Linked DNA regions of Homo sapiens: regions 1, 2, 4 and 5 are each linked to region 3. Evidence: fine-mapped expression QTL. A gene starts in region 3. Each other region holds a variant in brackets. All regions are shown on one strand. Distances are between the middles of the regions. Region 1 overlaps DHRS12 (dehydrogenase/reductase 12). Region 2 overlaps TMEM272 (transmembrane protein 272). Region 3 holds the start of DHRS12 (dehydrogenase/reductase 12). Region 4 overlaps FAM124A (family with sequence similarity 124 member A). Region 5 has its middle 4.8 kb from the start of TMEM272.

Evidence for each region. PIP is the estimated chance that this variant, and not a neighbour inherited with it, causes the effect.
Region 1: its variant is fine-mapped to the expression of DHRS12 in pancreas (GTEx, PIP above 0.99).
Region 2: its variant is fine-mapped to the expression of DHRS12 in whole blood (TOPMed, PIP above 0.99).
Region 4: its variant is fine-mapped to the expression of DHRS12 in lung (TOPMed, PIP 0.93).
Region 5: its variant is fine-mapped to the expression of DHRS12 in whole blood (TOPMed, PIP above 0.99).

What each region holds. Positions count from the first base shown.
Region 1 is chr13:51,779,496-51,784,599 of GRCh38, forward strand. All of the region lies in intron 4 of DHRS12 (dehydrogenase/reductase 12), which reads right to left. Among named protein-coding and RNA genes, the nearest start is that of DHRS12, 22 kb to the right of the region's middle. RefSeq lists a silencer at 2,003-2,052. The variant A/T (reference allele first, on the strand shown) is at 2,775.
Region 2 is chr13:51,835,059-51,840,162 of GRCh38, forward strand. TMEM272 (transmembrane protein 272) reads right to left here. Exons shown (of 5, transcript NM_001351003.2): 2 at 3,415-3,495. The coding sequence starts at 3,472. Among named protein-coding and RNA genes, the nearest start is that of TMEM272, 7.6 kb to the right of the region's middle. The variant G/A (reference allele first, on the strand shown) is at 2,158.
Region 3 is chr13:51,801,718-51,806,821 of GRCh38, forward strand. It overlaps DHRS12 (dehydrogenase/reductase 12), which reads right to left and starts at 2,446. Exons shown (of 9, transcript NM_001377533.1): 1 at 2,337-2,446. LOC107984561 (a long non-coding RNA gene) reads left to right here and starts at 2,119. Exons shown (of 2, transcript XR_007063805.1): 1 at 2,119-3,084. RefSeq lists enhancers at 762-811, 3,197-3,326 and a silencer at 2,007-2,646.
Region 4 is chr13:51,244,809-51,249,912 of GRCh38, forward strand. The region is part of intron 2 of FAM124A (family with sequence similarity 124 member A); the gene reads left to right. Among named protein-coding and RNA genes, the nearest start is that of FAM124A, 25 kb to the left of the region's middle. The variant C/T (reference allele first, on the strand shown) is at 2,973.
Region 5 is chr13:51,847,416-51,852,519 of GRCh38, forward strand. It overlaps a transcript of TMEM272 not described here. Among named protein-coding and RNA genes, the nearest start is that of TMEM272, 4.8 kb to the left of the region's middle. RefSeq lists an enhancer at 1,763-2,263. The variant A/G (reference allele first, on the strand shown) is at 2,417.

The DNA of each region.
Region 1 (5,104 bases), 22 kb before region 3:
CCTAGAAGAGTGTGAAAATGGAATGCTGAATGGAGGACAGGTGACTCAGTGGCAGCCATATGTGACCCAGATGCAAGGAAAAGCAGAGACGGAGAGTGAACGAAGCAGTTGTGATGAGAGTCCATGGACAACAGTCCCAGAGAAGCAGAAGGTCACCTTAGCTGCTGACAGGTTCTCCTGTCCTGTCCCTGGCCCTCCCAAAGCCCAGCTGTGTCTCTGCCATTGAGTTCTGTGAGGGCTGCCCTTGTAGCCCACTAATAAATTATTTTTTTCTTTAGTCTTCCTGTGTGGGTTCTTGTTACTTCTGACCACACAAAACCTAAGACACTTGGCTTGTCTCAGTTAGGAAGTCCACCAGTTCTCCCGGGATAACCAGCTACCCTTTAAAATAAGAATGTCTCCTGGGCGTGGTGGCTCACACCTGTAATCCCAGCACTTTGGGAGGCCGAGGCGGGCGGATCACTTGAGGTCAGGAGTTCAAGACCAGCCTGGCTAACGTGGCGAAACCCCATCTCTACTAAAAATACAAAAATTAGTCGGGCATGGTGGCCCACACCTGTAGTCCCAGCTACTCGGGAGGCTGAGGCAGGAGAATCGCTTGAACCCAGGAGGCGGAGGTTGCAATGAGCTGAGATTGTGCCACTGCATTCCAGCTTGGGCAAGAGAGTGAGATTCCATCTCAAAAATAAATAAATAAATAAATAAATAAATAAGAATGTCTCTGGACAGACACAGGAGGGGCATTGTTATAAATGGTTAATGGGTGCTTTTAGTCATTCATATCTTCGTGTGAACCAGGTCAACAACTTCCTTTCCTCTAAGACTTCCTATTAATATCAGGGACATTTGGGTGATTCAAGGTTTTGATGAGAGAAAAAGAGAGATATTTTAGAGTACAGAATCCCACGGGAGGGCAGGCCTGGGAGGAGGGAAGGCACCTTCAGCTACTGGAAAAGTTGCCCAAGGTTAGTCCTGCTCCCAGTAACAAGGAAAATAATTCATTATCATTATGACTCATTAGTATTTTAAATTTACACAATGCCTTTCTTCCAAGGAACTCATTATGTCGATGGCGGTTCATTACGAGAAAGAGATCTGGCAGTGGAATTTATGTTGGACATAGTCTTCTAAATATGGCAACAAGAACTTTTATTACATGGGTACATGACTTGAAGCAAATCTCTCTATCAACTAATTGAGAGGTAAAACTGTGTGGAGCACAGGTGATGCTGAAGGAGAGATGCCGCGTGTTCTTAGAGCACTGCGAAACCCATGTCTGCATCCTCCAAATACTAAATTCATAGTATTTCTGAAATTATATATCTTGAGTATGACATTTTAATAGCATTAAAGGTAATTATTTTTAATGAGAAAAATATATTGCAATTTGTAAATTTAGCATAGGAAAACTGATTGGCATTTCTATTAAGAAACCTTCAAAGCCACCTTGAATTAAAGCTACTTTGGTTACTAGCCAATGGGTTATGTGCTTCCATCCACGCTACTATCTGACGGAGAAAACCATTGTCTTGCTGTCCCTGGGAAGTTTCTGGTGTTAATTTTAAAGGAGCAGACAGCTGCACTGGTGAACACCATTTGGTACTTCTTTTGTACAGTAACAAAAACATAGTGAGCCTGGGGGGCTCACACACTAATCTCACACATTATATAAAGATGATTTCAAAGATTACATTACCTGGAGAAGACAGCAGGACAGAGTCCCAGAGGAAATGAGCTCTTAGAAGACATTCAAGGCACTGGCTTCCTATGGGGTATTCTTGGTTTGGGCTCAGAGAGTGGTTAGCGTGAGTCAGGCCTATCCCCTTTGCCCCCAACCTCAACTCATCCCCGCCACCTTATCCAGTTCCACGCACTGAACAAGTATTTATCAAGGGCCCACTGAGTGCCAGACCCAGTGCTAAGTACTCAGGATACAGACTGAGGGCGCCCTGCCCTCTGCCAGGCATTCCCAGGCATTACACATGTTACTACGTGACTAACCTACACTCACGGTCGAGGTAAGTGCTAGAGTGCTATGGGCACATGGGGGTGGGACGGCGGGGGAGGTGTCAGGCTCTGCATGAACTGTGAAGGGACATTTCAGCTAAGACCTGGAGAAGAGGAGGGAACAGGCAGGTAGAGGGCTGGGGATGGGAAGAAGGGCTGCAGGTATGGAGCACAGCCTGTGCAAAGAGGCCCTGAGGCTGGAGAGTGCAACCAAGGCAGCTGCAACCGAGTGAGCATGGTAGAGGGTAGGGCAATGTGAGGCTGCAGCCTCCAAGGGCAACGCCAGAGACACGCACCTCATATGAAACCAAGGGGTGACTTTAAGCAGAAGGAAACAGATTTGCATGCATAAGGACCACTCTGTCAGCCTTATGGAGGAAGCCTCTGTTCGGGAGGTGGGTACAGGAGGGCACCTAGGGCCCCATATTACTCCACTACATCACAGTGACTGCAGTGGCTTGGGCAGAGTGGTCGCAGTGGAGCTGAAGAGCAGGAGACAGACTGGGGACACGTTGTGCAGAGAGTCCAAAGGCACGATCACTGCTTGGATATGAGAAGTGAGGGGGTGTCAAGGACAAGCGGTGACGGAGATGATGCTGGCCACTGGGGTGGGGCCCATTACAGGAGCAGACCGGTGAGGGACTAAGGCTTCAGTTTTGGACATGCTGAGTCTGAGGTGTTTGAGATCTGGACCTGGAACTCAGAAGAGAGATCTGGGCTGGAAGGGGGCCCTTGGGAGCCAGGCACATGATGGCATTGGGGCAAGG[A/T]TGAGATCCCAACAGAGAGTGTGGGAGGAGAAAGGAGGGCACAGGATTGGTCTGGGAGGGATGCCAACATTTAAAGTCCCCGCAGACACGCTGCAGCTGGCTAAGGAGGTTGAGAAGGAGCCAACCTCCGAGGGTGGAATCACAGGTGGCTTGGAGGCCATCGCGCTATGGGAGCACGGACAGCTGTGCCCAGTGCTGCCCATGGATGTGGTAGAGGTGCGCTCTCCAGAACCAGGAATATCAGGGTCATAGGTGACCTCAGCATGAGAGTGGCCAAAGGTCAGGGAGATAAGCCGACTGGAGTGAGCTGCAGGATGCCCGGGACTCGGGGACCATGAGAGGCTGGTGGAGGAAGTGCTGTGCAGGCTTTTCTCCAGGGCCTAGCCAGGTGACTGATGTCACCCCCTGCTGTCACAGCCGCAGTATGGGGGTCCTGTGTGCTTCACTGAGATGTATGAAAGAACCTGCTGTACTGCAGGGAGAACCCGAGTATGGGCACTTGGGCCTCAGCTCATTAAAAGGACAAAGGTGCTTATTTGGGATTGTGTTTCTAAAACTCCTCAAATGAATGTTTGTTACCAGCACACCTTTAAAACACTCACCAAATCCCAGCCAGGTAATTAGGTAAGGTCCTGGCCCACAGGAGGACTTGGATTTGGGGCCGGTGCTCCTAGGCCAGAAGACCTAGAAGGGCAGACACCACGGAGCCTGGCGAGGACTCTGCACCACCATGGAGCTGCCGAGAAGGAAGAGCGGCCCAGAGCGGGGTGCACGGCGCGGCCCAGGAGGCTCAGTCTGGGAAGCTTTTGTGTCTCATCAAAAGCAGCTTCCATGGCTGGCAGAAAACCGAAAATCAATGGGAAAAATGATCTCTGACTTCTGAGCTTGTCCATTCTCTCTCCTTAGGACGGCTCCCCGGTACAGTTTAAACCAAGAGCCTCGCCTGGGGCCCTTCTAGTGGTCGAGGGGAAATGGGGTTCCTAGGAGCTCCAGACTCCACCAGCCTCCCCTGTGGCCTGAAATCTGCCCCCACCTCAAGCTGAGGACACAGTCTCTCCAACAGCAGCTCACTTGTTACTGAGGACGAGCACCAAGAAACAATCATAATGAATAATATGCTTCTTAGGATGAAACAGACTCACTACATGCCAGACATTGAGCTGAAAGTTACAATGCTTTCTTTTTTCTTGTTGATATAATATATATATAATGTTTTAACATAAAGTAAAATCTGTGCATGCGTGTGTGTGTGTACACAGTTCTGAACTGTGACAGATGCAGTCATGTAACTACGCATTAGACTGTGGTGTGATTCGGAAGAACTCTATCACCCCAGATGTTCCCTCACAGCCACTCACATTCCCTCTGTCGTCACACCCTCCTCCTGCCCCTAGCCACTCCCTAATCCCGCCCCTGCAGCCTCTGACCTCTTCTTAGCCCCCTAGGTTGCCTTTTCCAGAATGTCCTATAAATGGAATCACAGTCTGCACCCCTTGGGGTCTGGCTTCACTTTGGCTGGTGCATCTAAGAGTCACTCACATTGTTTTGTACATTGACATTTTGTGCCTTTTTATTGCTGAATTGCATTCCATTGAATGGGAGTGCCAGTTTATCTATTCACCATATATCTGGGCTGACTCCTGTTTGGGGCGATTATGAATAAGCTGCTATAAACATTCGTGTGCGTATTTTTGTGTGCACACAGGTTATTTCTCTTTGGTTAAATATCTTACAAGTCTTTTTTAAATCTTCACTTCTGGCCTATAAAAGTATCATCATCCCCATTTTACAGAATGGGAAAGTAAGGCGTGGGGAGGTTGAGGACATTTGTACAGAGTCAGGTAACTGGAGGAACTGGACTACAACCCTGCTCAGTGCAGCCAGTGTGACTGAGCGCCTCCTGAGAGCCAGGTGGATTCTGCCCTCAAGGATCCATGCTCTGGGCAAGAAACCCACCCATCAGCAGGTGGCTTCTGCTGAGCCACAACAGGCACACAGAGGGGTCCATGGGAGCCCAGAGGGGAGCATCTGACCAGGCTCAGGGGAAGGAATGTGTCCAGCAGAGTCACAGAGGAGCAGTATGAGTTAGCCAGGTAGGGGACATTCCAGGCAGGGGAGCAGCAGGACAAAAGCATAGAGGTAGCACTGCCAGTGCCAAGTTCCAAAATAAGAGGCTGACTGCTACAGGGTCCATATAGGAAAATAATGGGAAATACATTTGGACAGGAGGTGGGGTCTGTAACAAAGGACTTTAATTCCAGGTTAAGGAATCTGGATGTTAAAACAACATTAGCTGCCATTTCTACAGTGCTACTTCCCAGGCTCTGTGC
Region 2 (5,104 bases), 33 kb after region 3:
GAGACCACCCTACTCCCTGGATGAACGCCCAGATAAACAAGCTACTCCTCTGAGGCCGCCACCACTTAGCAGCTCCACATGTGGATAGGGACAGCACCAACCAATCTAAGGGGGATATCTGAAGATTGTTCTTAAAACATAAAATAAAAATAAAACTTTTATTTTCTTTCTTTTTTTTTTTTTGAGACGGAGTCTCACTCTGTCACCAGGCTAGAGTGTGCAGTGGTGCAATCTCGGCTCACTGCAACCTCCACCTACCGGGTTCAAGCGATTCTCCTGCCCCAGCCTCCCGAGTAGCTGGGAATACAGTCGTGCACCACCACACCCAGCTAATTTTTTTTGTATTTTTGCTAGAGACGGGGTTTCACCATGTTGCAGGATGGTCTCGATCTCTTGACGTCGTGATCTGCTCGCCTCGGTCTCCCAAAGTGCTGGGATTACAGGCGTGAGCCACTGCACCCGGCCAAAACTTTTATTTTCTAATTACATAAATATGTAGCTTTATAGGAAATGTGGAAAATGTAGAAAACCAGAAAGAAGTAAATTTAGAAGTCATTTGAAAGGAAAACACTACAGTATATGCATTTGCATCTATGTACTATTTTATCAGGTCTGGGATCAGGCCAAGGAGGCCAATTTTTCCCAGCCTAAATTCTAAAAGACATATTAATTATGAAAATTCTCAAACATTCAAACAAATACAAAGAGTAATAGAGCAAACATTCAGATACTTGCCACTCAGGTTTCCCTCTGCATGCTTTTTAAGTTTTTAAATTTTTTAGTTGGAAATAATCCCAGTGTGCATTTCCTGGGGATATTCTCTTATTAATATAGTACCTTAGTACAGTCGCAGCTTCTTAAATTTACATTGATACAATATTTTAATCTGCCATCCATATTCCAATGTTGATGACCTAATAAAGCCTTTGGGTCCAGTCTAGGCTGAAGTATTGCATTTGTTGTCATGTCTCCTCTGCCTGCTATGGTTTGAATGTGTCCCCCAAAGTTCATGTGTTGGAAACTCAATCCCCAATGCAAACGTGTTGGGAAGTGGAGCTTAAATGAGAGGTGATCAGGCCCTGGGAGCAGAGTAAATGAGTTCATGTCATCACTGGAGTGGGTTCATTATAAAAGGGGGAGTTCAGCCCTTTTTCTCTCCCCCACGTGCTGCCTTCCTCCATGGGATGACACAAGAAGGCCCTCCCCAGCTGCCGGCCTCTCATTCTTGGACTTCACAGCTTCCAGAATGATAAGCCAACAAGTTTCTGTTTGTTATAAACTACCTAGTCTGTGGTATTCTGTTATAGCAGCACAAAGTGGATTAAGAGACCTCCCTCAAATCTAGAACATTCTCATCAGCCCTTTTTGTTTTGTTTTCTAGGATGTTGACATTTTTGAAGAATACAGTCCTCTCTGCTGTTTTTTAGTAGAACATTCTTCACCTTGTATTTGACAGATGTTCCCTTGTGTTTGGACAAAGGCTGTGCATTCTTGGCTGGATTACTGCATAGGTGACGGCCACCTGTCCCTCACTGGTAATGTTCACTTTAAACCCCAAAGTGTGGCCCACTTTCTCCACTGTATGATTACTATTTTATTCCTCCCTTGCAACCAAGTACTGCTTGTCATCAAAATTTCCTCTTAGATTTAGTGTCTATTGATGATTCTTGCCTGATCCAACCTTTATCTGAGGGGGCAGGTGGGAGGAAGTAGAAGTCTAGGCAAAGAAACACATGTTGGAAGGCCCAGGGGGAAAACAGAAGCTGGTGTTCCTAGGAAACCTAAAATGTTTTTGTCTGGCTGGATTTTCCAGAGTGAGAAGGGAAGAAGAAAGAGTGATTCAAGAGGTAAACGGGGACTCAATCACAAAGGGTTTCACAAGAGAGCAAACGCTTCTGTTTTATTCTGCAGGAATGGGGAGTCACTGTGCAGTGAAGGACCTCCCCAGAGGAGGTGCTGAGGGGATGGGCAAGAGGCAGCAAGAACACTTAGGAGGCCTTGCCATTGTGCTGGCTGAAGACGGAGTTATTCATACAACAAGGGCAGAAATCTCAACAATCAAGGAGGCCATCATTAGGCCAAGGTTGGCCTAGACCTTGACCTGCAGATTTACAGTGCAGCCAGGAAACATCCCTTTTTCTGGGAAACCCTGAGCAT[G/A]ATACTTCCTCTCTTGCCAACCTGGTGTTGCCATCAGCACTTCTGTTGCATAAACAGGTAGGATGTGTGTTGGGGGAGGTGGTGGTAACTAATTTCCCGAAGATGTAGAGCAACAATATAGCTGATGGTGTCTCCTTTCCCTGCCGGCAGTAAACCTATGAGTTTTCATCCTGCCAGAGCATCAGAGGCCCTGGGCAGAGACTCCAGCACCACTGTCCCACTCTGGCCCTCACAGCAGTAGGTGTGCTCCAGGGATGAAAGGAGGGTGGCCCTTAGAGCTGTCCCTGGGAGTAAAATGTCAGGGCTGTGCGTTAGGAGAATGAGATGGGCACTGGGCCCATCAGCGAATGGAGAAGGTCAGTTGTATCTGGGAGGTGGCTCTTCACTCATTTACCTGCTTAGTCAGCCAGTGCCTATTTATTGAGCTCCTACTGTGTGTCAGGCACTGCTGGAGGTGCTGGCATGCAGCAGTGCAGGAAACGTCATGGGAGGAGAAGTGGGAGGTGGACAGTGTGTGCTAGGACATGGTAAGTACAGGTAAGGAAAGGTGCCCAGGCACCCATCTGTCAGCCCCTTGTTCTGCTGACCCTCCACCTTAGTCCGCCACTACCCACTGACTGCAGCTTCCTGATATTAGTGCCTGGAGATGAGTTGCTTAAGGCTTCCCACAATGTTCCCTTTATCCACATTTCATCTGTAAAAGTTAGACCATACATCTCACCATGATGTAAAAGCTTTCATCCCAGGGACCCCCAAGGCCTGGGATCTGATTTTGGGATATTCCAAACACAAGACAGACTGGGTCTTCTGTAATATGGTCCAGCCCCTCTGGACAGAAAGGACCCCAGCAGGTGATAGTGGGGGAATATCCAATTTAGTAAGGAGACAGGTTGAGGTAGGAGTAAGGGAAAGCTACCCAGGTCCAAGGTGTCACATTGCCCTGCCGTGTTGCCCAGCACGGCTGCCATCATACACTGATTGTAGCAGTGACTCCGTTCACATGCATATTTTTCAAACACATATTACATGGAAAACACATACAGTGAACTATGGAAAACTAAAGATGAATTGGTAAGGAATGGAAGGAGAAAGCAGCCAACCGAGGGCCGGACACTGTCTTCCCCAGCTCTACCACCCTGGGGCCACCCCATACCAAGCACAGCCCACTCATATGATCCACTCCAGCTTTAGCTCATCGGGTGATCCCAGAGGTCTCAATCCTACAAAACCAGGGCATTTCTCAGAGTTGTGACTCACCATTGCTGGCGATTTTAGAAATGCACTGATGACACGTTTTCTCCAGACCTCCTGGCATTGTTCTTGCTCGCTGACAAAGTTCTGAGGATCAAAAATAATTCATTAGAAAGGATGGTGGAAGGATTTACTCAGCACCAATAACCAACCCTCTCTGTGCATGTCAGTGGTGGCCTGCAGGGTGGTCTCAGTCAGCCCGGGTGGCCTGGGTGCCAGTGTCAGGTGTGGCCTTGTTAGTGGTTAGCGGGGCTGAGAAAAAGACCCCCTATTCCACAAATGAGAGAACCAAGCTCAGAGAGGTTAAGAGGCTTGCCCAGTGATACCAGCCAGGAAGACACAGGCCTGGAGGGGGAGATGGTAACAGCTCTCACTTGCTGAGCAATGGCTGCAGCCAGGCGTTGTGTTAACTCTTTAAATAGGTCATCTCATATTTAATCCCACAACAATCCTATCTGGGAAGTGTTACTGACTCTGTTTTACAGATGGCGCCTTAGAGACCCTGAGAGCTTAAGATTCACCCTAAGGCCAGAGCTGGCAACTGGCAGAACCCAAACTTGATCCAGGTATGGCTCCAGGTACAGAGCAAGGGCGCCCTCACTTCCTGACGCAGCTGCTGCACTCCCCAGGGTCCAAGCGGAAGAGGAACCATGGACTTGACCAGAGCAGCCTGGGTGGAGACCCGAGCGGCCTGGAGCACCACCCCGGCTCCCCTGTGGACCTGCTGTGGTCTGAGCAAGTTGGTTGACACTGTGAGAAAGGGCTTCCCTTCCTTGGAAGAAACAGCCATATACATTTTAAATCCACAAAAAAACTCCAGCTCATCAAGACGGCAAATTTTCCTGCCCGGTGAAATGAGGTAGCCCCGTAAAGACACTAGGAGAGGAAGGGAGTCACTTTGTTCCTGAGGCTGGGTGTGCGTAGTTCCACCACTTCCCACCACGTCATTGCTTGGGAGTAAGGCCTCCATGGGGGCTGGCTGATCCAGGCGGGATCTGGGGCAGGCATCCTTACTTCATACAAAAGTCTCCCCAGGAACCTGTCCAGAGTAGCCGCGGCTCCATTTAAAAGCACGATTTAACAAGGTCCTTGTTCCTCATACTGCAGGGGTTTGCAAACCAAGGGACCACAGCATTTTAGCAGCACTACCTGCAGGCCCTCCTGGGTGAACTAGGGCTTAGGGCAGGGGGAACAGGCCGTGATGGGGAAGATTTGTGGTCTGAGGACAGAGATGGTCATGATGACAGAAGGAGAGCTTGCTTTGACCAGAGCTGTGGCTCATAGCAGGCAAGTCACTCCACCGCCAGCGTCAGCATGGGCCTGCAGGCAGGAGCCATGCAGCCCGCAGCTTCTCTCTGCAGCTGATCCACTGCTAGCACACAAGCACGGTGGTTGGGCTGAGACTCGGGGTTCTTATTTCCCATCACTGTCCTTCTAGGACATGTCATGCTCAAAACTTGGCTTTATGTCAACAGGACCTTTATGGCAGGAAGCAGTGTGACCAGAGATAGTCAGTCCCCAACCAGAGGCATATCACCAGCGCCCTGCCAAGGTCTTCCACATGTTACCTAATTTAGTCTCCTCAGTTCGTATGCCCCATTTTACAGAGAAAACCAAGATTCAGATCAATTTGTTTGCTCAAAGTCACCCAGCTAGTAAGTGGTAGAACTGGGGTTTGAAATGAGGCCTCCGAGAC
Region 3 (5,104 bases):
AGGAGGCATTGTGGGGAATGAGTGAGAACTTCCCAAATACAATAGAGCCAGAAAAAAAGCAGTCCACAGGGAACAGGCCTGAAGAGCCCTTCTCCAGGGGCAGGAAGCTGACAGGCTTTTCTCTGTGATACCCAGTCAGAGGGGACATTAGCCTCTGGGCTCCACACTGATCCGTATTAGAGACGAATGTTTGCTGAGGCTGGCTCCTCTGGGTTGAACCTCTTCCTCAAACTCCAGACTGGGAGTGCTGCCAAGCGGGCAGTACCAGCCTGGCCTGCAGGACATGTCCCCGCCCTCTGTCCTCTGCCTTGGATCTTGCCTTCCATACAAGAATTCCATCCTGGTCCGATCTGTTGTTAATAAGACTTGTCTTTTATGTACTCTGCCCCTTATTGGGGAAGCATTTTATTTTCACTCTAGAAATCAGTCTCTAGATATCAGTCTCTATTTTTCACACACACACACACACACACACACACACACACACACACACACACACACGACTTTCCCAAGGTCACCAGAAGGTAGGTGATCTTCTTCAACACCCAGCCTCGGTGCCAAAGGGCAGTCCCCAGACAAGCTGCATCAGCATCATCTGGAAACCTGTTGGAAATGCCCTGCCTACTGACTCAGAAGTGATTGCTTGGCAACCTGTGGTTTCATGTGCCTTGCCAGTGATTTTGACTCAAGCTGAGAGGACATTTGTACTTACTGTTTCCTGAAGCTGAGGTGACAGGGATGGGGAGGAGGAAGCTGGCAGGTATCTGTGTCTCCCCACACCCTCAATTTACCCAAATATGAAATTTGCTTAGGACCCATCCACACTTGCCCAGGGTTTAGGAGTCTGTTTAAAACTGCCCCAGGGAATTATTAGGTTCAGCAAAGTTTAGGAAACAGTGATTAGATCCTCCTGCCTTAGGAGCCCAATATAGGGAGGCTTTATAAAAATCCTTGTGCCAAGAGAAACGTTGTAAACTCTAACTCCGCGCTCTCACACTGAAGTCAAAACAAGGTTGTTGTTTTTCTCTCCTATTCACTAAATCCACAACAGCAGGAAAACCCATCTAACTTTGCCAACTGCCTTCCCCTCCCCTCCCTTCCCCCACCAATCTGTGGTGGATTGGGCCCCTTGGCCTCACTTCTACCTTCCCTCAAGGTGGGGAAATCAGAGCGAAAGAGTCCTGGGAGAAATTTTTACAGTCTGCTTTCCTTGGGGCCCACCCCTGGTTGGAAACTGACTTAAGCTTTCATGCTGTGTAATGTGGAAAGATCCAGCAATTAATGGTCATTGCCAGAGGACACCCCTTTGAAAGAAAGAGGCTGCCACTGTATTCCCCTAAAAACTGTGGGACAGGGCTCACGACTACACTCCCCACCATTCTCTGCAGCAGGGGCTCCTGAGACAGAGCTGAACCTTCTCCAAAACGATGTGGGGTGAAGAGCAGGGAGTTGCAACTCCTACCTCCCCTAGGAGTGCTGGCCAGGTTGCCGTGGGAACTGATAAAGCCCCAGTGCAGGGAGAAGCCTCTCAGAGGTGAGAATCACCTGGGGCATTTGGATGAAATGCCAGTCCAGGCCCCTGTGCAGATCCACTAAATCAGAATCTGTAGGGATGGGGCCTGAAAACTGGGTACTTTTAATTCTCGCCCAGTGATTCTGATGTGCAGACAGGGTTGAGAACCAGCGGTTAGCCTAATCAATTCTAAGAGAAAACCTCCATCTCTCCTCCGTCACAGGAACCTGTCACCTCTTAAAACCACAATGAGGTGGAGAGCCAACTAGGGCACACTGAGCGTGGTCACGGGGCGACGAAACCACCACGCACCGTTCCCCAGAAGCACACACTGGCTGGAAAGTTCCAGCTGGAGCCAAAGGTCGCAGTCCAGGTGCTGCATCTTTTTAAAGGAAACACACCCAAAGGCACTAGGACAGAGCCTTAGCTAGCGATTTAGATCCAGCCCTATCTGACGCCGCCAGCAGCACCACGAAGACACTTCCACGAGCACACCCAGCGGGGCGCCGAGGTGCCGCCCAAGAGGCTCCTTGGCGCCGGGGCCGCCTGACGTCAGTGGGACGGCCCTGGGCTTGGGCGCGCCACAGCCCCGCCCCTCGGGCGCCAGTCTCGGTCGCGGGCATTGAGCGGCTGGAGTCTGGCGACTGCCCCACGCCCAGCCGTGGGTCGCTAGACGGCGGGCGCACCCGTCGTTCTGGACACGCTTAGTCGGCCCAGCGAGAGGGCGAAGGAGCCGCGGGCGCGTCCCCGCCAACCCTGCTCGCCCGCGCCGAGGCGGGCCACGTGACAGCCCGGGGCCCCGCGCCCCGCCGCGCCGCCTTACTTGGTGTACTCGCGCAGCCCCTTGGCGAACCACACGACGCTGCGGTACAGGGACATGCCGGGAGCGCCCCACGCCTAGCCCCACCGCGCTCCCGGCGCGGCCTCCGCCCTGGTCCCGCCCCCCGGGAGTCGCCCGCCCTGACATCATCCCGGTTATGTAAGAGCCGCGGCTTCCGGTTCCTTGCTCCACCGGTAAGGCAAGGGGTCTCGGGGCCGGCCGGTCGACTCCGCCCCAGCCTCAGAGGGTGGAGTGAGGGCGGACCGGCCCTGGTGGGGGCCGCAGTCGAGGTCCGCAGTCTCCTCGGGGTCGAAATCGGGCATCAGCGCCGTTTAGAGAACACCGTCCTGCTGGGCATGGCCGGGATGCGAAGATGGCCCTGCAACGCACCTCCTAGAATTTGGTTACCTAGAAAACCATGTGGAATAAAACGACGAGGCTTATGATATTTAAAAGACTTCTGCATCGAATTGGTGTTATCATAAGGGTTATTTTAATAACTGGCATTCTCTAAGTTTCTACACGTGTTGGGGGATGCAGTGCCGTGCCACATTTCCCGTCTCCAGCAAGCGCAGTCAGATTGGCGACATCGCAGGCAAGAGGCAGGGCTGGGGCTCCCACCCGAGAAGTAATTGTCTCCAAAGTTGGACTTTTGCCACTGGTTCTGCGACTTCATGCAATGCCAGGGAGAGCCCCTTGATTTCCCCCAAATCCTCATCAGCCTCTTTCCACCCAAGCCCAGATGAACAGTGTGAGTAAAAAAGAGTGTGGTTGCTGCGTGAACCCAGATCTCAGACTAGTCATCCAGCCCCATTATGTAGGACTCAGACACCCCTGTCCACATCTAACCTCCAGCCCTAACGCCACATTAGAAATGGGGGTCTTACTGCTGCTGTCACTCCTAGTCACCCTGTTAAATTCTATACCGGTTTACCCAAGTCGCCCAGAGACTGGGCCCCACTTACATAAGCTGAAGAGACCAGCTGCTTTAATAGCCTCATTACCTAGGATATAGGATCACTGTCCAACCTCACTCCACAGTGGGCAAGTTTTTACTTCAGAATAACTTTTGAAATAAATTTCCCCGGAACAGCTCGCCCCTCTCAACAGGACTCTGAGGCTCCACTACGTTGCTGTTATTCCTGACAGAGTGATGAAAGGAAATTTAAACAAGTGGCATTTTGTAAAACCACCCCAGCCTGTGTGACTTTCAATGCCTGTCCGATTTGGCTGGGAAAATATTTTAGATCCCCAGGGCTACATACTGTTTTTTATACCCTCCTCTTTGTGTCAGTGATGGAAAAGGTGTCAATCTGCTCTGAATCTCTCTGAACACCTCAGGAAATAGGCTTTTGGCTCGCAGAGAGGGGATGAGAAATAGTTTTGAACCACCAAGTCTCTTGGAGGGTGTCAGCAGCCCCTTGAAGTAAAAGTGTGGCTGCAAACCCAGCTCTCTGCATTAGCCAGGTGAACCTGAGCATGCTGCATACACCCTCAGTCTTGGTTTCTTAATATGTAAAATGGGAATGAATATGCGCACCTCGTGGGGTGGTTGTGATTAAAGGCATTCATTATAAAGAGCTTAGTTTCATACAAAGTGATCAGAAGTGTTGGTTTCCCTCCTTAAGTTTTCTTCTCATTCCTTTTTCCCCTGCGCTTACAGCCATGCAGTGTACATTCAAGAAATTTCCATGAGGGCATGAGGTGTCCAGTGTTAGCCTCAAATCAAGCATCCACGAGGTAGTTAGTGTATACATTATATACATTTAAAGAGGAGGTCTTAGGAAAAGCCAAACCCTGTCTCAAAATGAGCTTCCACTCTCACCTGGATGCCAAGTAACACACACACACAAACAAAGGGCAGTATGGAGTTCACAAGGGAATGTTCCCGTTTAACTGGAGTCAGCTGAGCTGGATTCTAGTCCAATTTCTGCCAGTTATTCCCTGTGTGACCCATGTGATAAAATGTATAGAAGGCTTAAAGTGTGCCAAGCATTGTGGATTATAGCACTTAATTCTCACACTGATCCATATGGTTACTCCTGCTATTATCCCCATTTTACAGATGAGCAAACTGAGAGAGGTTACATAACTTGACTCAGGTCACAGTAAATACATGGTGGAGCCAGGCTTTGAGACCAGGTAGTATGATTCCAGAGCCCACACCTTCCCTGCTGCATCATACTAAATGGGGGCAAGTCACTTAGCCTCTGGGCCTCAGTTTTTCTCATCTGAACAGAAAGGGGGCCAGACTAGGCGCCACCCAGGGCTCCTTTCAGCTCCAACTTTCTATACATCTACTAAGAAAATTACATATGGATGCTAAATAAGTTAGGCCCAGGGTGCTTTTAAGAGAAACGTCAAAGTGGATAGGGTTGCTTCATTTCCCAGGGGTGGAAAGCCACTAAAATATTTCTTCTGTGTTCCTGGTTCCAATTTGCCACTCAAAAAGCCAAACAAAGAAATCATCCCCCAGAGTTCCATTCCAATTGATTTAGATCCCTGAGGCTAATTTTGACCAAAATGGAAGGAGAAGCAGAAGGTGTGGAAACCCATGGCTTTCTGCACAACAGATACACATGATGAGAAGTCTGTATTCTCTTACACACATATACACACACACACACACACACAACCAGTGTTCATATCGCCTTCCACTGAAGCTCATACCAGTTCCTCTAGCCAAGTTGTCATGGCAACACCAGCTGCCAATGAGATCATGGAAGACAAGGTCATAATGGCAATGGTGCCTTAATATTTTACCTGGCAAA
Region 4 (5,104 bases), 560 kb before region 3:
GACTCCAGCTGAGGATGCCCACCCAGGCGAAACAGCCAGCCCATTCACAGCAGGCTCTCCCACCTAAGGTGGGTGAAGGAGCTAAGCCATGATTTCAGAGCCCCAGCCAATTTGGGGCAGAAAAACCAACGCGATGATTCCAAGTGAAGTGGCATCGTTCATCTGGGATAATACCCGAGGTTTGTTGTCTTCTGCCAAGGAAATCAAGGATGTGGACACACAAGGAGTGAGATTAAGAGCAGAGCTTTAATAAGCGAAAGAAAGAGAAAGGCTATCTCCTGCAGAGAGAGGGCTCCCAAGCAGGTGTCTGGTCTGCCACAAAATACTTAGGGTTGTGTAGATGAGCTTGAGGAGGTGGTGTCTGATTTACATAGGGCACAAAAGATTGGTCGGACCAGGTGTGCCATTTGCATAAGATGCAAAAAACTGGTTAGGACTAGGTGTGCCATTTGCACAGCATGTGAAAATCTGGCCGCCCCCCACTTTAATCTTTTATTATGCAGATGGATTCTCCACCTGGCGGATGCCATGTTGCCTGTTCCTTTACTGTACACACGGTGACAAAGAAAAGGGAAGATGGAGCCTCCAGGTTGAACATACCTGGCCCTCAGGTAGCCCTTTTCTATTGGCGCAGCTTCCGGCATTCATCTGTGCAAGCTTCCAGCTTGCTTATCTACATCTACAGCTCGAATTTTCAGACTGCTCTTTGTTAGAAAAGAAATGATTTGGGGGCTGCTTTTTTGTTAAAAGCAAAATTCTGCTAAGGGCTCTTTTATACTCACTATGTGCCTAAATAATTTCTTTCCATCTCCTGTATCACGAGGATTGTGCCCTTGAGTAGTGAGAGGACATAGTGGTGAGGAGCACAGATCCGGGGTTCAGACAGCCCTTGCTGTTCTCCAGGCAAATGGTCTTGAGCAGGTCAGTTAGTAGTTCATCTATCATAGTGTTGCTTTAAATGAAAGATTAAATGAGATAGTATACATAAAGCTTGTAGGACAATGTCTGGCAAATAATAAGAGCATAATAAATGGTTGCTATTGTCTAAATTAATTTTCTGTTAAATTTAAATGGCCAGAAACAGGATACACAGGAGAGGTAAAATGTTGGAAAAAATATATATATAACAAATGCCCAGGCTAATAGTACACTTTCTGCATCATAGAAGGCCTGAGCTTGTACACTGCTTTCTTTAACACTGTTTTCATTTTGTGTTATCAAAGGAAAGCCTAATTGTCTATAATCAAATGAAAAAGAATCTCCCTTCTCCTTAGGAAAACACAAACTAATTTGAAAGCCTTGTTAATGGTGTGCTAGCAGCTCCCATCCTCCCACCAGCCTTGGGGCAGTCTGTGCCACTGCTCTGTTTGGTTCTGGTCTGTGTTTTACCATAATTCAACAGGTGCTCGCTAGGTCCTTTGAGAAGACATGTAATAGATATGATAAAGGCAGAGCACATCCCACAGTCATGTCGTCTGTGTTTCTCCAGGGAGGCATAGAGACTTTTCGTGGCAATTAATTATTCACATTTTCTGTCCTTCCCCTCAAATGCTTGGTTTCCTATCCAGCTCCACAGAGGCATGTTTCTCGTGGGGTGGGGGGGGGTGTAACTCTAACACCTGATGACAGCTTGAAGCTGCGTTCTGTGTTCTTTGCTTGTGTTTTCAGGTCATGTGCAGCGGGTACGTGCTAGTGATGGCCAGAGCATGCTAATGCCACTGCTCATTCTCCTTAGCTCTTCTGGGGCAGGGTCTTAGCCACTTACATGTCCCTGGTTCAGGCAGTGCAGAGGGGGCTCTGGGGGTCGGGTCTTCGTCATCCTGGCTCGCCTGCTCTTGGCTGCCTCCCAAACTGCCAGGCGAGCTGGTACTTGGTGGAATGCCTTTCAGCTCACCCCCCTGCTCTGAGGCCGGGCATTTCGCCCTTCTGCAGAGCTGTAAACATTCACTCATCCATGCAGACTTCAGCATGGTCTTTGTTACTGCTCTCAGGGAAACCTTTGTGTAACTGATAGAGATGGCACAGGGCTGAGCGCCCTGACAGCTCCACTGGAGAGTCTCAGAAGCCACCTTCTCCCGGGCCTCTTCACACCCAAGCCTCTCACGCCATGCTATAGGCTTTCTTGGGTGACTGTTATGCATTCCTTTCACTTGTGCACCCACCTGTGGTGCTGGCCTGTTTGAGTTGCCCTCGAGGGCACTGCTGAGATGTGAAGACCTGGGCATGTGCCAACAGGGAGGGCAGTTTCTAGCTTATTCTTCCTCCAAGACCTGGGGCCAGAGGAAAGAAATGTAAGTGGGTGTCCAAGAAATGAAGCTGTTGGCTGGTGGCTGGGAATGAAGCCAGTCAGAATGAGGTGGGAGAGCCGTGCAGAGGGGCCAGGCGGGAGCTGCCGTGGCCACACATGGATGGAGAATGGCAGCTGGCCACTCTGCTGTGAAAGGGATACAGTGGAGAGGCGAGCACACTTCTCTGCAGAGCCTGGGCTGATGGTGCACACGGAACTCGGATACTGGAGCTAGTGCTCATACTCTGTGTGACCTTGGCAGGCTACTTCACCTCCTGTGCCTCAATTTCCTGGTTTCTAAAATGGGGACAATCATAGCACCTCCCCTTTCTATGGTGGTTGTAAGGATTAAATGAGTTCATACATGTAGAACATGGAGAAAGCACCCATGTTAGCTAACATGTCACCCTGTGTACCTGGCCACATGCACACCTGGGGGTGGGATTAGGACCTTGAAGGGACTTCCTGGTGGCCCAGGCAGCTTCTTTTCCCAGACTTTCCTTTACTTCGCATGGTGTTTTTCCCCCCTCATTAAAATCATCTGTCATTTTTTTCAGGTAAAATTCTTGACCCCTCGTTCAAAGCCTTTCTGTCCTTTTCCATTTACATGGAGCATTCACTGATGCTTAGCAAAGTCGCATGTCTCCACTGTTGGGAGTTCAAGGCACCAGAGAAAAGTGAAATC[C/T]ATTTAGATGATGTGGTATTTTCTCCTACTTTTACTGGAGTTACTCACTGGCAGAAAATTTCATCGCAGCTTTACTACTTTTGCGTCAACTGTACTTCTGCCGATCGTGTCATGAATGTTCAACCAAACCGAAAGAAGCCAGGCAGGCAGAAAGGGCAAGCAAAGAAAAGGGCCAGAATTATCTCTGAATTCTGATTGTGTTCCTAGCCATCATGATGAATTTTCATGATTCAGGTCTATATGGGGGCACACGCTTATCAGATAACTGCATACAAATGAGAATATGATCTGAAAGTAACTGGCCCATCCTTAAATTCAGCCCTTCACCTAAGCAACACAAAGATCCAGTTGCCAAAGGACATCTCTCCTGGAAGTCATTTGGGCATCTCAAGCCAAGTGGTCAAGGTGGAACTTTCTGTCTTTTCCCACAAATCTGCCCTTCTTCCTCTATTTCCTATTTCAGTTAAACATCACATCAGATCACTTGTTCAAGCTGGAAACATCAGGGTATATACTCCTCTCCAACTTTTCCTACACCCCACCCACCAGGCCTGTGGGCTTCCTGGCCTGCCATTTGCATCTTTATAGCCTGTGAATCCATGCCTCTTCTATTTACCCACTTGACTGACTGTCCTGGATCTGTAAGTACTGCTGGGTAACAGCCACCTCCAGTCTCAGTTTCAGGCTTGAAACAACCATCATTATTATTTCCCATTTGTCTTGGATCAGCTGATCTAGACCATGCTCACCTGAGTGGCTCTTGCCCTGCGTCTTTGGGTGTGAAGTTTGGCTGATCTAGGGCAGGCTCAGCTAGAGTGGGTCTGTTCCATGTGTCTCATCCCCTTACTGGGACCGGTGGGCTCCCCCAAGTATGTTCTTATGGAAATGTTGGGAGCACAGGGAGGCAAGCCAAAACACATGCCACTGCTGTCTCTTTCTCCTGCCCAAAGCTAGGCATATAGTCTCATCCTAAATCAAAGGGTGGGGAAATACGCCACCCATTTAGTGGGAGGAGCTACACAGTCACATGGCAGAAAGTAAGGATACATAATAGGATAAGGAACTGAAGCCACTAACATAATCTCCTACTCTGCCAAGTCCTTGTCATCTCCTGTCTGGACTCTTCACTAGTCTTCTAACTCCTTATTTTGCCTATAGCCAACTTTCCCCCAACTTGATCCTGATACCCCTTCATAAAACCTTCCTTTGCCCCTTATCAACTACTGAATTGAGCTGAGGCCCCATACAGCTTGGTTCTAATCCATTTTTCCAGCTGCATCTGTTGCCATGTCCCAGAATTCCCCACGGCCCCCTTCCAAATGTGCTTGTTTTTTGCACAGTTCTATACCTTCGTAAACACTTCCTAATCTCCTCAGCATTTGAGGGCATCATGAGCAAGAGGATGTGTTCTGCCTTTACCCTTCAAGACCCAGTTCATTTGGTGCCTCCTCCAGGAAGCCTTCTGCAGAGCCCTCCTTCTTTTGTCATATGTAGTAAGTTGGAATTGCTCTATGCTCATATTTAACTCATACAAATTTGAGAATACATGCTCAGCCAGCAGGAAGGAAAAAGAGGGAAGACAATTTAAAGGATTCCACTTGCCATTCTACTCCATGAATGTGGAAAGCTGAAACTTGACTCCGCTCTTACCTTAGTCATCCTTAACTTCCAGAAGCCTCTCAGGTTCCCAAAAGCCTCTTGTAGAGTGAAGGGCAGGGTTTGATGAGTAAGGGTTCAGTGTTTAAAGAAACAGACTATTCTCTTATACATGGCCCTGCAGCAAAATGGTTATTTTATGTGGTGTTCAACTAAAGAAACATCTATCTGGCCATCTTGTCTTGTTACAAGTTAGTACTTTATTGGAAATTTAGGAGACTTTCAGTGTTAATCGTGTCTATAGATAACCTTTGCTTCACAGTGACTTTAGAATCTAGCCCCCACCCCAAGTTACTATTCCGTTGTATTCCTTTTAGGCATATATCAGATTTAATTTTACTTTTTGATGTTTGTGTTTCCCCACTCAGTCACAAAGTTCTCATCTTATGGGCTTATGGGTCTTCAGAGGGCTGCTGCCTATGGTTGTGCAGGTTGTGCACTGCACAGTTCTCAGGGAGCATATCATGCAAGAGTAT
Region 5 (5,104 bases), 46 kb after region 3:
TTGAACGGTTTCATGCCAAAACCTTCCCCATCCCCACCCTCATGAAACTGGTCTCCGGTGCCAAAAAGATTGGGGACCACTGGGTGTGTAGTAGGCTATACTATGTGAGTTTGTGTGAATACATTCTATGACCTTCACACAATGGCAAAATTGCCGAATGTCACATTTCTCAGAACATATACCCATGGTTCAGTGATACATGACGGTACTTGAATCTTCTCTTATCTCACACTGAGTGAGTGGAAGCAGAGTGACTGTGAGCAGTGAGGTCAGAGTCTTAAGGCTTCCCTGCCAAAGTGGTGGGGGTCTGGGAGCACACGGTGACCATAAGCCTGGCCTGGACGTGGCCAAAAAGGGGCAGCAGTCTTTTTTGAGCACATTTTAGCCCTGACATCAAAACAAACAAAATTTCAGGTGATGAGGCAGTCTTCCTGGGAGTTCAGGAAGGGAGAAAACAATGGCAGGTCACTCAGGAGCTTTTCCACATGTCCCCAAACATGCAGCAAAACATCAAAGAATATTTTTCTGCCAACAGACAACTGTACTTATGAGTACAGAAATAGGAGATTTTTGTGGGGGAGAAAGTAGGAGTCTTTGGAAAGTGATTATGAGACTCCAAAGGTAATGATAAATGATAGTAATAATAGCTCTATCAGTTAAGAAAAACGGGGAATCTGATATGGGGAATTAGTTACAAGAGCCACGGAAGAGCTGAAAAGTCATGCACGATGTCGTGGTGGAGTAACCCAGAGATTAGCAACTGACAGTGGAAGCAGTTGCTAACCCTAGAGATGTGAGTGGAAGACCACCACTGGAAATGCTGCCCAAAGCAAAGTAGGTGCGATTAATACCCCCACTTCACAGATGAGTAGCATAAGGTACAGAGATTAAAGGCATATGGCTACTAAGTGTGTAATGAACTTCAATTCAGGCCACGTGATAGAGTCCACATATGGCACCACTCCACTATTGCCATATGAATAAAGGGCACATTAGGGGAGATGATAGTAGAATTGAGTGAAAGTTGAATTCAGAGTATAAATTTTTAAATGCTTGTCTTTAGTTGAGGTGGTTCTCCTCATAAAAGTGAGTTCATTCATTCATTGAATGAATACTGCTGACTCCAAGCCAGATACTGTGAATAAAAAGATTACTTAATAAAATCCATGTATCCTATAAGGAATTTTGATGCAAAAGAGTAGTGAGTGAATGAGCACGTGCCTGAGTTTAATTACAAAGGCAACTGTGAGTTAATGAGGGTAGGCCTGACTTCTTGATGGAAGCTGTAGAAATGAAGGGAGATGCTAAAGTTGCCCAAAGACCAGGTTGTGCACCTCCAAAAGGAGCAATCAGAAAGCCAAGGGACACTGATGAGTGTTCACTCTCACTCTTCCCCAAGATTGCACAAAAGTTTGTCTTTGTCTTCGTCTTTGCTTGTGTGTTATTCCCCAACAAATTAGTTCTATGTAAACATCCTAATTCTTTTCATGCTTTCTTTGGAAGTTTTCCATTCTGATGTCACTCTTCTATTTGAGTCACCGTTTCTATATTTACCATCTATTCATCCTGACGGCTTCCTAATTTGGGAGAAAACCTTCAGGGTCCCTCACTTCGACTTCTACCTGAGTCAAAAAGCATTTCAATATAAGTTTTCATTTTCCTTTTGACTTTTCCCAGCATTTTAATTTTCCTGAGGACAATTTAAGAAAAAGAGAAACAGAATGCATGGTCCCACAACTAGTTCACAGTCAGGAAGAAGAAGAGTTAAATGACAGGCACCCCTGACCCATGCTGCAAACTTGAGGCCATTATGCTAAGAAATAAGCCAGCCACAGAAAGGCGAATGCTGTATGACTCCACTCACGTGAGGCACACAGAATAGTCATAGACATGGAAGTAGACTGGTGGTCACCAGGGGCTGGAGGAAGGGGAGCACGGGGAGCTGCTGTTTAAGGGATGTGGCATTTCAGTTTTGCAAGATGAAAAAGATTGGTTGCACAACAATGTGAATATTCTTAACACTACTGAGCTGTACATTTTTCAGTGGTTAAGATGTTGAGTTTTATGTTATGTGTATTTTAGCACAGTTTAATAAGCAAACAAACTCCTGGATCTGAGAAGCTGGGGGAGTCAAGGCCTAACATTCTAAGGGCCCTGTGGAACCGGGCAGTTGTCCAACATGCTCCAGAAAATCCCGGGGTCTCTTCAGCCCCAATTTCAGCGGTCGCAGAGGCCCTGTGGGAGGATGCGCGGACACGCCGCTGTCAGGTTTCCCGCCTCAACCCTTTTACTCAGGTCTGAAGTGGCGCCTTGGAGTGGGTGTGAGGAAAGGAATAACTCTCCTGTCTTCCTGTCCTTAACCTGGGCTCCAAGGCCGAGGGTCTAAGTTCCCAGGGGCAAGTGTCAGGGTTGGGAA[A/G]ATGCACAACGCCACCTACTGGCGCCTCTTTGCCCTCCCTCCCCATCGCTTCCTGCCGTCTGTGGTCTCTCAGTGGGACCTGGGCTGTCTCTTTCAGAAACAGGATGGACACAGTGGCTCATGCCCGTGACCGAGCACTTTAGAAGGCCAAGACAGGAGGATTGCTTGACACCAGGAGTTCGAGACCAGCTCAGGCAATGTATTGAGACTAAAAAACAAAATAAAAAATTAGCTGGGTGTAGGGGTGTGTGCCTGTAGTCCCAGCTACTTGAAATGTTCCCCTGGGGAAAGAAAAACCCTTCTGTAATTTTGTTTGAGATTGCATTAAGTTTATACACAAATTTGGGGAGAACTGGCATTCTACTGCTATTATCAACTACAATTTTACGTTGTTTCTCTCTCCCCCTCTTTATTAGGTGTTAAGCCAAATCACCTATTAAGTAATGATGATTTCCTTATAATATTTATACTTGTTTTATTTCTTTGCCTAATAAATTGGTTATTATTTACAAAACGGTGAATGCTATCCACTTCTTTATTTTAATAATGTCTTCTGGGATATTTTTAAAGAATGTAAAAACTAGACAAGGGCCCTGCCCAGTCAGAATGGAGACACCAGTCAGCTGGTACACTTACATCAATGAGCAATTATGGGCACACAGTAAGCCCTGAGTCTTTTATCATCAAGTATAATGTTTGCTGATTTATAATAAATTTAAAATAATATTTTAATTCTTATTTTACCAATAATTTTTTCTCAGGTGGGGATAGGGGGTATGCATTGCTTCTGTGATATTGTTGCTACCGGTCCATTTCAATAAACAGAGCTATACCATATCTATTTTTAAAATCATGAGTACTTTTTGATATTTAAAATTTAAATCTAATACTATACTCTTTTGTGTAATTTATTTGATTTTTATCATTGTATCCCTTTTCTTTTATACTGAAAATTTTGAATCCTAACATTATTAACGTATTTATATGCTTTGTCATACAATAGAAAGAAATGTTTCAAAGTAACAGTACAGCACTTCTACAAAAATAAAATGACCAAGTTGAAGTTTCAAATTTATTTGAAGTTCTTCTCCTCTTTAGAATATATCCCGCTAAGGAGGGTGAGTCAAAGAAGTGTGCCCTAGGATCATGTGACATAATCCTTCCTCTGTAGGGGTATGGTATATATTTGATGTATGGTTATGTTCATGTGTTCATTTCCAATTTTAAGATTTGTTTAAAAGAAGAGGTACTACAGCACTTTGGGAGGCCAAGGCAGGCAGATCCCTTGGGCCTAGGAGTTTGAGACCAGCTGGGCAACACAGCAAGACCCTGTCTCTACAAAAAGTACAAAAATTAGCTGGGTGTGGTGGCGTGCACTGATAGTCCCAGCTACTTGGGGGACTGAGGTGGGAGGATCACTTGAGCCTGAGATGTGGAAGGTGCAGTGAGCCATGATCATGTCACTGCACTCCAACCTGAACTACAGAGTGACATCTTGCCTCCTCCGTAACCAAAAAAAAAGAAGAGGAAGAAGAGGAAGAAGAGGAAGAGGAGGAGGAGGAGGAGGAAGAAGAAGAACAAGAAGAAGAAGAAGAAGAAGACGCCCTACATTTGTAGTCATTTTTTTTTTTCACTTAATAATGTATCCTGGGAATCTCTCCAAATCAGCACGAAAAGACCTTTGTTTTACCTTTTTTTTTTTTTTTTTTTTGAGACGGAGTCTTGTTCTGTTACCCAGGCTAGAGTGCAGTGGCATGTCCTCGGCTCACCACAACCTCCACCTCCTGGGTTCAAGCAATTCTCCTGCCTCAGCCTCCTGAGTAACTGGGACTACAGGCGCACGCCACCATGTCCAACTAATTTTTGTATTTTTAGTAAAGACAGGGTTTCACTATGTTGGCCAGGCTGCTCTCAAACTCCTGACCTTGTGATCTGCCTGCCTCAGCATCCCAAAGTGCTGGGATTACAGGCGTGAGCCACCGCGCCCAGCCTGTTATATATTTTTTTACAGCTGCATAGTACTTTGCTCTGTGGATGTGCCAGTTTATGTAAGTGGTTCCCTATTGCTACAAAATTGAGTTACTTCCAATCTTTTGGAATTACAAACAATACTCCGATGAATAACCTACACAAGTATCTTTCTGTAATTGTGTACATGTACCTGCTGGATAAATTTCTAGACATGGAATTGCTGGGTGAAAAGGCAAATTCACGTGTAATTTTCTTAGTTTCTGACAAATCCCCATACATGGGGGTTATAACAGTTTGTATTCCTACCAGCACTGTATAGCAGGGCCTATTTCCTTCCAACTCTGCTAACAGAGTGTATTGTCAAACTTTTGGATTTTTGCCAGTTTGATCGATGAGAAATGCAACAGTTTTCTTAATCAATTGCATTTCTCTAATTATAAGTATGGTTGAAAATTTTTTTCATATATTTAAGAGCCATTTGCATTTGTCTGCAACCAATTTGTTCATATCCTTTGGCCATTTATCTATTGGGTTGGTGGTCTTTGTCTGCTCAATTTCAGAAGCTCTTTATAAAACGGGCACTGTGGATATAGCAGTGAACATGACAAAGTCTCCTCTTTCACAAAGCCTGCTTCCAGGGCATGATTCCTTTATGGCTGGTGTGGCTAGAAACAGTTCTCTTCTTTCAATACAGAGACTGAGGCCATGAGCAGTGAT